Linked DNA regions of Homo sapiens. The protein of the gene in region 1 interacts with the protein of each later gene in a biochemical or structural test. Each region holds a gene or a part of one and is shown on either strand. Other genes may lie near its edges.

What was found.
Region 2: the proteins of WAC (region 1) and RNF20 form a complex in vitro, tested with the Homo sapiens proteins (2 studies listed by BioGRID).

Annotation. Positions count from the first base shown.
Region 1 is NC_000010.11:28,528,486-28,536,144, forward strand, and holds the start of WAC (WW domain-containing adapter protein with coiled-coil), read left to right. Parts: upstream 1-4,632; 5' UTR 4,633-4,958; coding exon of another isoform or gene 4,959-5,094; coding exon 5,095-5,135; intron 5,136-5,512; coding exon 5,513-5,549; coding exon of another isoform or gene 5,550-5,697; intron 5,698-5,748; exon of another isoform or gene 5,749-5,861; intron 5,862-7,058; coding exon of another isoform or gene 7,059-7,076; coding exon 7,077-7,272; intron 7,273-7,659.
Region 2 is NC_000009.12:101,557,819-101,563,844, forward strand, and holds the end of RNF20 (E3 ubiquitin-protein ligase BRE1A), read left to right. Parts: intron 1-2,982; coding exon 2,983-3,108; intron 3,109-3,271; coding exon 3,272-3,412; intron 3,413-4,091; coding exon 4,092-4,193; intron 4,194-4,427; coding exon 4,428-4,604; 3' UTR 4,605-5,526; downstream 5,527-6,026. UniProt on the Homo sapiens protein: Component of the RNF20/40 E3 ubiquitin-protein ligase complex that mediates monoubiquitination of 'Lys-120' of histone H2B (H2BK120ub1).

The sequences.
Region 1 (7,659 bases):
CAACTAGAGGCTTGAGGATTTCACTTTTTGGTTCTTCCTTCAGTTCTTCCTTCAATAGAATCACATTAAAATCTTGGTCAACCTATATATAACCTATGAGTTGATAGTTTTTCCCCTCTATTGGTTGGTATGTATTCAGTCTACAGGTTGAAATATGGGTCTTTTACTCATTTGCAAACTTGATATTTCTCATTAGATAGCAGTGTAAATAATCTGCTTTAAGATTTGCTATACATGCAAATTCATGTACATTTTTTAATATCTATTACAATATTTTGCCTGTATTAGGAATAATCTAGCTTTATCCTCCATCTTATTTGTGAGAACAGGACTGGATTTGTAATTCTTTTATTCTTTCACAAAGCAAACAGAAATAGAACCCAAGCTTTTTCCTCTTGAGAATTCAATTTTGCTATTTTTATCGTATACGTTTCTGCAGGCAAATATCCTTTAATTCAACAAATATTTATGGTATGCCACATGAAGCATTCATTCTAGTGGGAAACAACCAATAAACAAAATATATGGCAAATGGTTTAGGAAAAATAGATCAGGGTTAAGGGAGCAACATGGTGGTAGGGCGCCATCATGTAGAGTTCTCAATTAAACAAGACAAGACTTAAGCAGAGACCTGAAGAAGTGAGGGTGTGAGCCAAGCAAGTACTAAGGGGGAAGAGGATTCCAGGCAAAGGGACAGCAGTGCAAAGGTCCTGAGGCAGAGGCATGCTTGGTATACTGGAGAAAACAGGGAGGGAGGGTAGAATGGTGGGAAAAGAATGAGAAAGCAGGGCTGAGCGCGGTGGCTCACGCCTGTAATCCCAGCACTTTGGGAGGCTGAGGTGGGTGGATCACGAGGTCAAGAGATGGAGACCATCCTGGCCAACATGGTGAAACCCCGTCTCTACTAAAAATACAAAAATTAGCTGGGTGTGGTGGCACGTGCCTGTAGTCCCAGCTACTCAGGAGGCTGAGGCAGGAGCATTGCTTGAACCTGGGAGGCAGAGGTTGCAGTGAGCCAAGATCATCCCACTGCACTCCAGCCTGGCGACAGTGAGAATCAGTCTCAAACAAAAACAAAAACAAAAACAAAAAAAGAGCAAATAAAGAAGTCAGTGGATAAGAAGCCAGAAGTAACAGGCAGTTTACATATGGCCTAGTGGATCATGGCTATAACTTTGGCTTTTATTCAAGATTGGAATATTATCTGACTTTTTAAGGGATTACTGCACTGTATGAGACAGCAAACAATGTGGAAGCAGGCATAGAAGGGCAAGATCAGTTAGAAAGCCTTTGCCACGGTCCAGGTTTAATGATGGTGGCTTGGACCAGAGTGAACTTGCTGGAGGTGGGTTACAGAGATCAGATTGTGGATACATTTTGAAGGTAATGCTGGCAAAATTTGTTGATGGAGTCAATGTGAGATATAAAACAATCAAAGATGACTCCAAAGTTTTTAGCCTCCACTAGAAGAATGGAGTTGTCATTTCAAGAGATTGGGAAGATCTCAGCAGGACTTGTTTGGGGTGGGGGGAGATTAAGAGTTTCGTTTTGAATACATTAAGTTTGTGATGCCTGTTAGAAACTCAAGCAGTGCTATACAGTAGGCAGTTAAGTGTGAGTCTTGTGTTCAGAGGAAAGGTGTGGACTGGAAATTCAAATGTGGGTTTCATCCAGCCAGAGATCTGAATGAGATTGCCTAGGGAGAGAGAACAGAGGAGTGCGGGTTGTAAGATTTGAATCTCACGCCACTCCAGCATTTAGAGGCTGGAAAAGAAGGAGAAACCAGTAAGGAGTCTAAGGAACAGCCATTTGGGAAGGAAGAGAAGCAAGAAAGAAAATGAAATCCTGGTAGGCAAGATAAGGAACTTTAAGGAGAAGAAAGTTATCAGCTGTGTCAAATGCTGCTGACAAGTGGAGATGAAGACTGAGAAATAAAAATCAGACTTGAAAACATGGATGCTACAGATGATCTTGAACAGGTCCAGAAGTGTGGGAATGAAGTCTGTGGGTTCGAGAGAGAAGTAAAGATAAAGTATTTCTGTAAAGGAGAGCAGATCAGACTTTTGATAATGTGGTTTTATTTAGAGACAGTGTCTCACTGTCACCCAGACTGGAGTGCAGTGGCAAGATCTTGGCTCACCACAACCTCCGCCTCCCAGGCCCAAGTGATTCTCCTGCCTCAGTCTCCCGAATAACTGGGATTACAGGCGCACACCACCACACCTGGCTAACTTTTATATTTTTAGTACAGATGGGGTTTCAAAATGTTGGCCAGGCTAGTCTCAAACTCCAGACCTCAAAATGATCCACCTGACTTGGCCTCCCAAGGTGCTGGGATTACAGGCATGACCCACTGCATCCGGCCTATTTACTTTTTGAGACAGGGTCTCCCTCTGTCGTCCAGGCTGGAGTGCACTGGTGTGATCATGACTCACTGCAGTCTCGAACTCCTGGACTAAAGTGATTGTTCAGCTTCAGCCTCTGGGAGTAGCTAGGAATACAGGCATGCATCACCATGCCTGGCTACTTTTGAGCAAATGGTTTATACCAATTTCAGCAGACATCTAGTTATCAAACAAATTAGTAGTAATTTTGCTGCCAGTTTTCAAAGTTTCTATGAAATGTTATTTGTTGTACTCCTCTGATGTTTGTCTTCAATGGATTCACTACAAATATGTCAGAAATTACATGTTAAGATGCTACCGAATTTTTTTGTTTTCATAATTTCAGTCACTGTCAATTTTTTTTTTTAGTTACTGGTAGTTTAAGAGAGCATTAAATAGGCTTTTTATTGGTCTGCACATCTCCACAAACAGCAATAAGCTCTACATCTGGCAGATGGATGTGACAAATAAGATTATGTAATTAAAATTTTTTTTCCAACCAGTTGTGATTTCAGAGCCTTTCTCCCTACATCATTCCATCTCTCCATTCTATTAGGTCTAGCAATAACGTAACTTCTTGGATACCAAGTAAATCAGTTACTTTTTATTTTTTGGAGGGGGTTGTTTCTTCTGACTTGTTTACTATTTGCCTCTTCTGTGTTAATCACCTAATTATGTTTACCACAATTCTTTTCATTAAACTATGTTGCCTTACAAATAGTGCAAAAAAAAAAAAAAAAGTCAACCAATCACCCGAATACCACCACTCTCAACTAACGGTTGTTTGGTATACTTCACGTTTCTTCTCTCAATGTACCTGCAGCAGTACATAAAATCAAATTTGTAGCAATTTCACTTAACACACCTGAGAACTTTCACATGAATTTTCTTTCACCAATGGACTTCAGCGAGGAAGAAACAGAGGAGGGAAAAGTGAGAGATAAAGAGAGGGTGGGCAGGGCACCGCTGGGTATGGAAAACGTTAGAAAGGGATGGAAAACGTTAGAAAGGGGTGAAAAGCCGAGCGCAGTGGCTCACGCCTGTAATCCCAGCACTTTGGGAGGCCGAGGCGGGAGGATCGCTTCAGGCCAGGGGTTCGAGACCAGCCTGGGTAACACAGCGAGACCCTATCTCCGGAAAAACTTTTTTTAAAAAATTAGCCGGGTGTGGTGGTGCATGCCCGTGGTGCCAGCTACTTAGAGGGCTGAGGTGGGATGACCCGTAAGCCCCGGAGGTCGAGGCTGCAGTGAGCCGTGATCGCGTCACTGCACTCAGACTGGACGACAGCGCGAGACCTGTCTCAAAAAAAAATAACAAGGGGTAGGGTGGGGCAGTGAGATGGTTCAGCGTTGTTCCCAAGGAACTCATCTCCCTAAATTTCCAGTCTCAAGCGCCGCTTTCATTCCCTGCCCCGAGCGGCGCTCCCCGCTCCGTGCACGCATCTCCGCTGAGGGCCGCCCTGACGCACGGCCTTCTGCCTTGAACACAGAACCCCTCAGCCCTTCCTATTAGCCGTTTCTGGCCGGGACTGCACGCGCTCCTTCCTGCCTCGGGGCGCAGGGTGAGACTTACGTCTAAAGGGCGCCCGGCGAGCTCGCAGCAGCCCCTGCCCCGCGGAGGGCCGGTGGCGCGCGGCGTCCGGTGAGGGGCAGCGGCCCGGGCTCGGTTCCGGCTTCCAGCAGCGGCCCGAAGGCGCCGGAGCACGCTCCCCGCTCCCCAGAACGCAGCTTCCGCGGCTGCAGCCCAGGCAGCTCTTCGGGAAGCGTCCGCCCGTGGTCTCGCCAGGGGGTTTCCGACCTCCCCGCCCGACAGCGCAGGGGCGGGGGCCGCGGCCGGAGAGCTCGCCCGAGAGCACCCCCTCCCGCTGCGCCTCTGGGCGCACGCGCAGCCGCTGCAGCCTCCCTTATTTAGTCCGCGATGGCTTCCCTCGCGCCCCACCGTCCTCTTCCGGAAGGCGGCTCCCTCCCTGCGCAGCCCGGAGCCCCTGAGATCAGCCTCGAGCAGGCGCCCGAGCGAGACTATCCCTAAACGGGAACGGCGGTGGCCGACTCGCGAGTGAGGAAAAGAAGGAAAGGGCAGACTGGTCGCGAAGAGAAGATCCAGGCCTCAGAGGAGGAGAAAGGCCGGAGCCAGCCGAGGTTTGCCGAGGGCGGTGTTCCGGACCCGCGCGGTGCGGGGAGGAAGGCCGAGGGTGGGAGAGGAGGGGCCCGGCGGAAACTGCCGAGGTTTCCCGAAGGCGGCAGCGTCCGAGTTGCCCGGATGTAGTTGGTGGAGCGGCAGCGGCGGCACCAGCGGCGGCGGCGGCGGCGGGAGGAGGAGGAGGAGAAGAAGGACCAGGCGGCGGCAGCAGCGGCGGCGGCGGGGGGAGGAGGGGAGGAGGCGGCGGAGCAGGAGGAGGAGAAGGCGGAGGAGGCAGTCGCTCTCCGCGGGGCTGAGCCGGACGCGTCGTCTTGCCCCCCTCCCCCCGGTTCGCGGTGCCGCCGTGTAGTTGGCGCCGCTGCCCCGGCTGAGAGTGAGCGTGGTGTCGACGGAGGGAGATGGCCCGGGAGCGCCGGCGCCAGTAACTGGGAGCTGATGAGAGTCGCCGAGGGCGCGCCGGGCCCAGGTGCCGGGGCTGCCCGCCGCCCGCCGCCGCCGCCGCCTGCGCGCCCGCCCGCCTTTCGCGGCCGCTCTCCCCCCTCCCCGACACACACTCACAGGCCGGGCATTGATGGTAATGTATGCGAGGAAACAGCAGAGACTCAGTGATGGGTAAATTGTCTTTTCGTTTCGGGCCGGGCGGCGGCGGGGGGCGGCGGCGGGGGGGCTGTTCCTCCTTATCTGGAGCTGGCCGGGCCGCCATTTTTGTTGTTAACCCTGATCCGGATCGGGTTGGGGAGGAGGAGCGGCCGCGCGGGCGGGCGGGCGGGAACGCAGTGTGGCGGGGAGCGGGGGCCCGGCTTCGCGGCATTTCGCCCTCTCCGGCCCTTCCGGAGGCTCCGGGTTTGTGCCGTGTGCGTGCGGGGCTCGGCGCTGGGGCGCTCGGTAGGTCTCCCGCGGGGAGGGGCGGCGGGGGCCCCGTTTTCTTCCTCCCCGGCCCCCCACCCGCGCCGTGTCTTATGTCGCTGCCTTCTCTTCCTGTTTTTCAGCTGTCACGACCGGAGGGGGGACTCGCAGCCTTACCAGGTACCAGCCGAGGCCGGGGTGGAGGGATTGGAAGGGGCCGGAGGGGGAAGGGAGGGACTGCTACTCGAGCGCAGGCCTCAGAAGTCGATACAGGCCCTTCGGTGCAACACATCTGAAACTAGCACCGCGGATCCCCTTAAAATTCCAGGTTTGGTTCCTTTAGCGCTCTCCAGCAAGGTTTAGTGACTTATTTTGACAGGTGACTGGAGGGAGTTCGCTGATTTAGGAAAAAAGAATCATTTGCAGCCAGAAAGACCTGACTCGATTATTTGATTATTTGCGAGTGAAGGAATCGATGGGATGAGATGATAGGTGACTTACGAGGCTTATTTATTTATTTATTGTGTTGGGGGAACTGAAAAGTTAATGTAAAGGTATTAAAATTAAGTGAAGAACTTGGGTAAATAGCTAAATGACTTACAACTTTCAAGTCGGTTATAAAGTACTACCCTTTCCCCTTTTAATATTTTTGGTATACTTAATTGCCTTACAAGTAAAAGATATGTGTGCTTTTGTTTCTGTAAGAATTGAGGTCTTTGGGTACTTGGATAATCATTCTGATGTAGGTGGTTCTAGGTAGGTGGGTTCCTTTTTGTTACTGCAGTCATTGTGTGTGAAGTTCTAAGGATTATGATGAAAGTGGCCCCAATTTTCAGGAGGGAAACCTCATAATGATTGTTAACCATCAGATGACTGCAGAAAACACTTTCTACATCTTAAAGGACTAGAGAGCAGGTTTCTAACCTGATGGTTGTGTTATACAGCTGAATTTGAAAACACTGTCTTCTGATATGTAAAACATTGGATATGTCAAAAATTAAACTTTACTGAATCTGTCCTCCAAAGCATAGCTGATTACACATTGCAACAGATTAGTACATCATGATTGTCTTAAGATATGTGTTAGAATAAAGCTAAACGATTATTTTGAGCGCATTATGCTTAGTTAGAAATAGTACTCACATTAGTTTATTTTGGTTAGTATTTTTATACCTTAAAATTGTTTCCCACACCTGGGAGAGTAAGGAAGTTAGGTCTGAAATGCTTTATTTGAATCAAAGAATTGGAGAAACTGGTGTGTGGGTTTTTTTTTTTTTTTTTGGTAGGTTTGCAAAAATATGCATGTGCTTATTTATACATGTGTTTGTGTATATCAGCTGTAGAGCAGAAATTGATTATAGTAGTACTGAATTTCTAGTTTTCTTTTGACTATCAAAAAATGATTCTAAATATTCTCAGCCAAATTTTTTTATTTTTTGCAGAATCAGTGTGCAAGGTGGTTTATAAGATAATGGAGTGGGTTTTTTTTGTGTTTAGTGTGATTTGTTATCAGGAGTCTTATTGTAACGCTTAAGCATTAGGTTTTTTGTCTGAGAAACTTTAAAGAGTAAAGCAGAATTGAAAGTGGAAATTTTAATTTTGTAAGTTCATAAAATTTAATGATAATACACCAAAGTTTATGTTTAAATTAGGGAGTTTAAGGTTTCAATTCTTTCTCTCTTTTTTTGGGGGGGTGATGTTTTACAGGCACTTAAGTATTCATCGAAGAGTCACCCCAGTAGCGGTGATCACAGACATGAAAAGATGCGAGACGCCGGAGATCCTTCACCACCAAATAAAATGTTGCGGAGATCTGATAGTCCTGAAAACAAATACAGTGACAGCACAGGTCACAGTAAGGCCAAAAATGTGCATACTCACAGAGTTAGAGAGAGGGATGGTGGTGAGTATCTTTCTTGTTGAAACTTTGACATACAGTTTTAACAATAGCTCTATATAAAAGGCGGCAGTAGTATTTCTAGCTTGAAGAAGTTACTGTTCAGTTATGTCATTAAAATATTTTAATCCTATCATTTTTTTTTTACTCTGAACAAGTTACTGTAGAAACAAGATGCTGATGTGAGCATCTAAAAAGTGGACTCTTAAGGCCAGGCGCGGTGGCTCACGCCTGTAATCTCAGCACTTGGGAGGCCGAGGCGGGCAGATCACCTGAGGTCAGGAGTTCAAGACCAGCCTGGCCAGCAGGTGAAAACCCATCTCTACTAAAAATACAAAAGTTAGTTGGGCATGGTGGTGGTGGCAGGCGCCTGTAGTGCCAGCTCTTCAGGAA
Region 2 (6,026 bases), on another chromosome or scaffold:
AACATGTCTGAAATAAAATCAAGTGACGTGTTTTGTTATCCTTTTTGCGTTAAAGTATATGTTTACTTGTGTTCCTGTGCTGTATATTTTAAAAATTTCTGGAAGGCTGCATGAGAAACTGTTAGAATTGTTACTTCTGGATATTGGGATGAGTTGTGGGTGAGGTTAGGAGGTATGTGTGATTTTACTTTTTTTTTTTTTTTTTTAAATTTCCATAGGTTTTGGGGAACATGTGGTGTTTGGTTACATGAATAAGTTCTTTAGTGGTGATACCAAGATTTTGGTGCACCCATAACCCAAGCAGTGTACATTGTACCCAGTGTGTAGTCTATTGTACCCAGTGTGTAGTCTGTTGTCCCTTGCCTCCCTCCGCCAAGTCACCAAAGTTTATTGTATCATTCTTATGCCTTTGCGTCCTCACAGCTTAGCTCCTACTTATGAGTGAGGACATACAATGTTTGGTTTTCCATTCCTGAGTTACTTCACTTAGAATATTGGTCTCCAATTCCAATTCCATCCGGATTGCTGTGAATGCCATTATTTTGTTCCTTTTTATGGCTGAGTAGTATTCCATGGCGTGACTTTTCCTCTGGGTAGATACCCGGAAGTGGGATTGCGGAATCAAGTGGTAGGTCTACTTTTAGTTCATTAAGGACTCTCCATACTGTTTTCCATAGTGATTGTACTAGTTTACATTCCCACCAACAGTGTAAAAGTGTTCCCTTTTCATCACATCCATGCCAACACCTATTATTTTTTGATTTTTTGATTATGGCCATTCCTGCAAAGTGAGGTGGTGTTGCATTGAGGTTTTGATTTACATTTCCCTGATAATTAATGATGTTGAACATTTTTCTTATGTTCGTTGGCCATTTGTATATATTCTTTTGAGAATTGTATATTCATGTCCTTAGCCCACTTTTTGGTGGGATTGTTTGTTTTGTTCTTGCTGATTTGTTTGAGTTCCTTGTAGATTCTGGATATTAGTCCTTTGTTGGATGTATAGATTTTTTTCTCCCACTCTATGGGTTGTCTGTTTACCCTGATGATTATTTCTTTTGCTGTGCAGAAGCTTTTTCGTTTAATTAAGTTTCATCTATTTATCATTTCTTTTGTTGCATTTGCTTTTGGGTTCTTGGTCATGAAGTCTTTGCCTAAGCCATTGTCTAGAAGGATTTTTCCAATATTGCTTTCTAGAATTTTTATGGTTTCAGGTCTTAGATTTAAGTCTTTGATCCATCTTGAGTTGATTTTTGTATAGGGTGAGAGATGAGGATCTAGTTCCATTCTTCTACATGTGGCTTGCCAATTATCCTACCACCATTTGTTGAATAGGGTGTCCCTTCCCACTTTATGTTTTTGTTTGGTTTGTCAAAGATCAGTTGACTACGTATTTGGCTTTATTTCTGGGTTCTCTATTCTGTTACATTGGTTTACATGCCTATTTTTATACCAGTACCATGCTGTTTTTGTGACTATGGCTTTATAGTATAGGTTGAAGTCAGGTAATGTGATGCCTCCAGATTTGTTCATTTTGCTTAGTCTTGCTTTGGCTATGTATGCTCTTTTTTGGTTCCATATGCGTTTTAGGATTGTTTGTTCTAGTTCCGTGAAGAATGATGTTGGTATTTTGATGGGAATTGCATTTCATTTGTAGATTGCTTTTGGCAGTATGGTCATTTTCACAATATTGATTCTACCCATCCACGAGCATGGGATGTGTTTCCATTTGTTTGTGTCATCTGTGATTTCTTTCAGCAGTGTTTTGTAATTTTTCTTGTCGAGGTCTTTCACGTTCTTGGTTAAGTATATTCCTAAGTATTTTATTTTATTTTTTTTGCAGCTGTTGTCAAAGGGTTTGAGTTCTTGATATGATTCTCAGTTTGGTTGCTGTTGGTGTATAGCAGAGCTCTGATTTGTGTACATTAATTTTGTATAGTGAAGCTTTGCTGAATTCATTTACCAGTTCTAGCACCTTTCTGGATGAGTCTTTAGGGTTTTCTAGGTATATGATAATGTAATCAGCAAACAGTGACAGTTTGACTTCCTCATTACCAATTTGGATGCCTTTTATTTCTTTCTCTTGTCTGATTGCTCTGGCTAGGACTTCCAGTGCCATGTTGAATGGAAGTGGTGAGAGTGGCATCTGTGTCTTGTTCCAGTTCTCAGGGGGAATGCTTTCAACTTTTCCTTGTTCAGTATAATGTTGGCTGTGGGATTGTCATAGATGGCTTTTATTACCTTAAGGTATGTCCCTTCTATGCTGATTTTGCTAGAGTTTTAATCATAAAAGGATGCTGGATTTTGTCAAATGCTTTTTCTGCATCTATTGAGATGATCATGTGATTTTTTAAAAATTCTGTTTATATGGTGTATCAGATTTATTGACTTGTGGATGTCAAACCATCCCTGTATCCCTGGTGTGAGACCCACTTGATCATGGTGGACTATCTTTTTGATATGCTTTTTGAAGGCAGTGTGAGAAACTGTTAGAATGGTTACCTCTACATATTGGGATGAGTTGTGGGTGAGGTTAGGAGGTGGGTGTTTGTGATTTTACTTTTTACACTTTAATATTGTTTGATTCTACTTTGTGCATTAATTTCAAAAAAGACTCTTTTAGAATGTCTAGCCATTCTGAAGGAAATACTCTTGGACTTTTGTTTGAGTTCTAATTTATATGTTATAGTATGAATTGCCAGGTTTTAAGCATTAGCATGCATTCTCTATTTTTGGCAATTTGGAAAAGAATCTTTTCAGTCATTTTTCAGACTCTTACTGAATCTTCCACAATATTTTATATTAAAAGTAAAGCTTTCAGTTATCATAGTCTTGATGTATTTTGAAGGGTTCATGGGCAAAATCAGTAATAGTTTGAGATTTCTAACATACTGTATTTTGTGGGCTTATAGATTAACAGAATAGTTTTTTTTCTTTTTTTAATCTTTTCATTTGTGTTAAAATCTGATTTTCTGTTCAAAGGTTGATGCCCAGCTACAGGTAGTAAGGAAACTGGAAGAGAAGGAGCATCTGTTACAGAGCAACATTGGCACAGGGGAGAAAGAGCTGGGTCTTAGGACCCAAGCCTTAGAGATGAATAAACGCAAGGTATGATTGATTAATCTAATGATGGTTAGTCTCAGTGGAACAAATAAGTATAACACTGTTGAGATTGTAAGTTCGCTTTATTCCTTCAACTTGGGCTAACATTTTGCCTCACTGGCAATAATAGGTGATACAATGGTGTCACTTATTTGTACATCCTACATAGGCAATGGAGGCAGCCCAGCTTGCAGATGACCTCAAAGCACAACTGGAGTTGGCTCAGAAGAAGCTACATGATTTTCAGGATGAGATCGTGGAGAACAGTGTTACCAAAGAAAAGGACATGTTCAATTTCAAACGAGCCCAGGTAAAAGCAGTTGTCTTTTCTTGTCACCTTTTAGGTGTTTTCTGAGGTCGGAAGTGACCCATATCATGAAAGAATCATTAGTCCAATGTATGTCATTTCCTACTAGACTTGAGGAAGTTTGTTGAGGGAAGAGAGTAAGTCTGTTTTCTTCACTGCCATATCCTCAGACTCTTTTATGGTGCCTTGCACCTAGTAGGCACAAAATAAATATTTGTTAAATTAATGAATTAGTAAATTGTTAAAGAAGTAACAGCATAGCAGCAGTAGAGGATTTTCAAGTTCTTGTATAATGTCTCTATTTTTGTCATGCTAGCTGTTTCTCATGATGTCTTTCTGTCTTTATCCGTAAGTCTCTGAATTATTTTAAACCGTTCTACCTTCAGCTTAAAACTAATTACTATAAAACAAAATAGACTGTCCTCTAAACTCTTAGATGTGTTTTCACAGGACTGAATTGGTAATAGATGCAATTCTAATTTGGGGATATAATTATGGTTGCCTCTTCTGAAACAAAAGAAAATATCCTGCCATTTGCAGTTCTCTACATTTCTACAAGATAATTGACCATAAAAGGATAGAAAGTCCCCTCTTTTCACAACAGAAAACTCAAGTCTATTATTTTTCTCAAAAATGATAGATTTGGGTAAGTGTGTCTAATGGGTATGCTATCCTGCCACAGGAGGACATCTCTAGACTTCGCAGGAAGCTGGAGACCACAAAGAAACCAGACAATGTACCCAAGTGTGATGAGATTCTGATGGAAGAGATTAAGGATTACAAGGTTAGAAAAAATGCCTTAGTGATTAGTTTTTTGTCAAAGCTTTAAGTGGCCTAATAGACTGGGAGAATAATTTGCATGATAGTAACCAGAGAATGGTTTATTTTGGAGGTTGGGGGGAAATGATGCTCTTTTTTTAGTGCCTTGTGGGTTTTCTTCTTGGTTGTGTAGTATATGAGAGCCATTTGGATCATAAACTTTCATGGTTGTTCAAACTCTGACATCTTTTCTTTTTAGGCACGCTTGACCTGTCCGTGCTGTAACATGCGTAAAAAGGATGCTGTTCTTACTAAGTGTTTTCATGTCTTCTGCTTTGAGTGTGTGAAGACACGCTATGACACCCGCCAGCGCAAATGTCCCAAGTGTAATGCTGCTTTTGGTGCCAATGATTTTCATCGCATCTACATTGGTTGATCTAAGTCAAGAGAAGAAGAGGAGCTGGCTAGTCAGGAACTTATTCATTAACCACCAAACCTCTACCTCTTCTCTCCTTGACTGTCACCTGTAGGACAGTTTATCAGTCAACTACCTTTCCTCCAGACTTTACTTCCAGGCTCTCCTCTTCAGTAGCTGGATGACTTTAGCAGAAAGGACTGGTAAATACAAGCCTTGGGTTTCAGAATGAATTAGAAACAAATAACTCTTACTGTCTTCCCTCCCAGCTTTGTTTATTTTGTGCTTTTAGACTTTTCAGTGTTTTCTTTTTCCAGCCCACTGTATAAACTTGGATTGTCCATTCCTCCTGAAGAAATCAAGTTGGTATTTTTGATGTGGAAAAGGGAACAAAAGTGGAAACATGGCTACTTTTGGGGAGTGATATTTTAAAAAATAAGTTGTCTATGGGCACAAAGTTTTCTTCATTTGTGTAGCAAACTTCTTGTGAATGTGGATTACAAAATGGTATAATTGTGCTACTCTCCCCTGGGTGGTTTGCAGCCCTAATGAAATTATGTCTAGGATGATTCAGTCTATTTCCCATTTACTAGCAGAGTAACTTGTTAAGATCAGCTGGCTTTCTTGTTAAAGTTATTTAAGTTTTGAATGCTCTACTACTTCAAGTCTTTAAATTTCTTGAGACTAGAATAATTTTAAATAATATGACCCTTTGTCTTCTAATGAAATAAAGATTGAAGAGGTTGAGTCAGGACTGAGCTGGTGAAGAAATCTTGTGGGTATTCTGGAAATTTGATACGGAGAGAACTTGGTGAGCTATGAATTACTCTCAGTCTCCTTTTTACAGGGTTGTTGTGATCCCTCTTTTCCAGAAAATTCTGTGGAATGTTTCTGTAGGACTTTGTTCTCCACAAGCTTGAATTAAAGCAGGATTCAGTTTGCATTTGTGTTTATGGTTTTTCTTTGAAACTTTTGTCTTTATTATTACAAGTTGATTTTATATCTGCTGTTATAGAATTAAATTTTCTTGCATGGAAATAATCAGCTTAGGTTAAGAGGTTGGCCTTGTTTAGAGTATTTAGATCTTTGCTTAATTGAAGCACTTTTCTCCCAATTCTTTTATTGAGTCTATTCTATGGAGAAATTATACCTAAAAGATTAATTTATTTGACTACTCAGTTATCTTTCATAGTTCATTAGGTGGGGTAAGAGACTATAATTTGTTTTTTGGGGGAGCATATTGCTGCCTCTAGCTTTAGGGTGAGAGTTCTTGCATTATGTGGTGGGTTTTTTTTTTTTTTTTTTGAGATGGAGTTTTGCTCTTGTCGCCCAGGCTGGAGTGCAGTGGCACAATCTTGGCTTACTGCCACCTCCGCCTCCTGGGTCCAAGCAATTCTCCTGCCTCAGCCTCCCGAATAGCTGGGATTACAGGTGCTCACCACC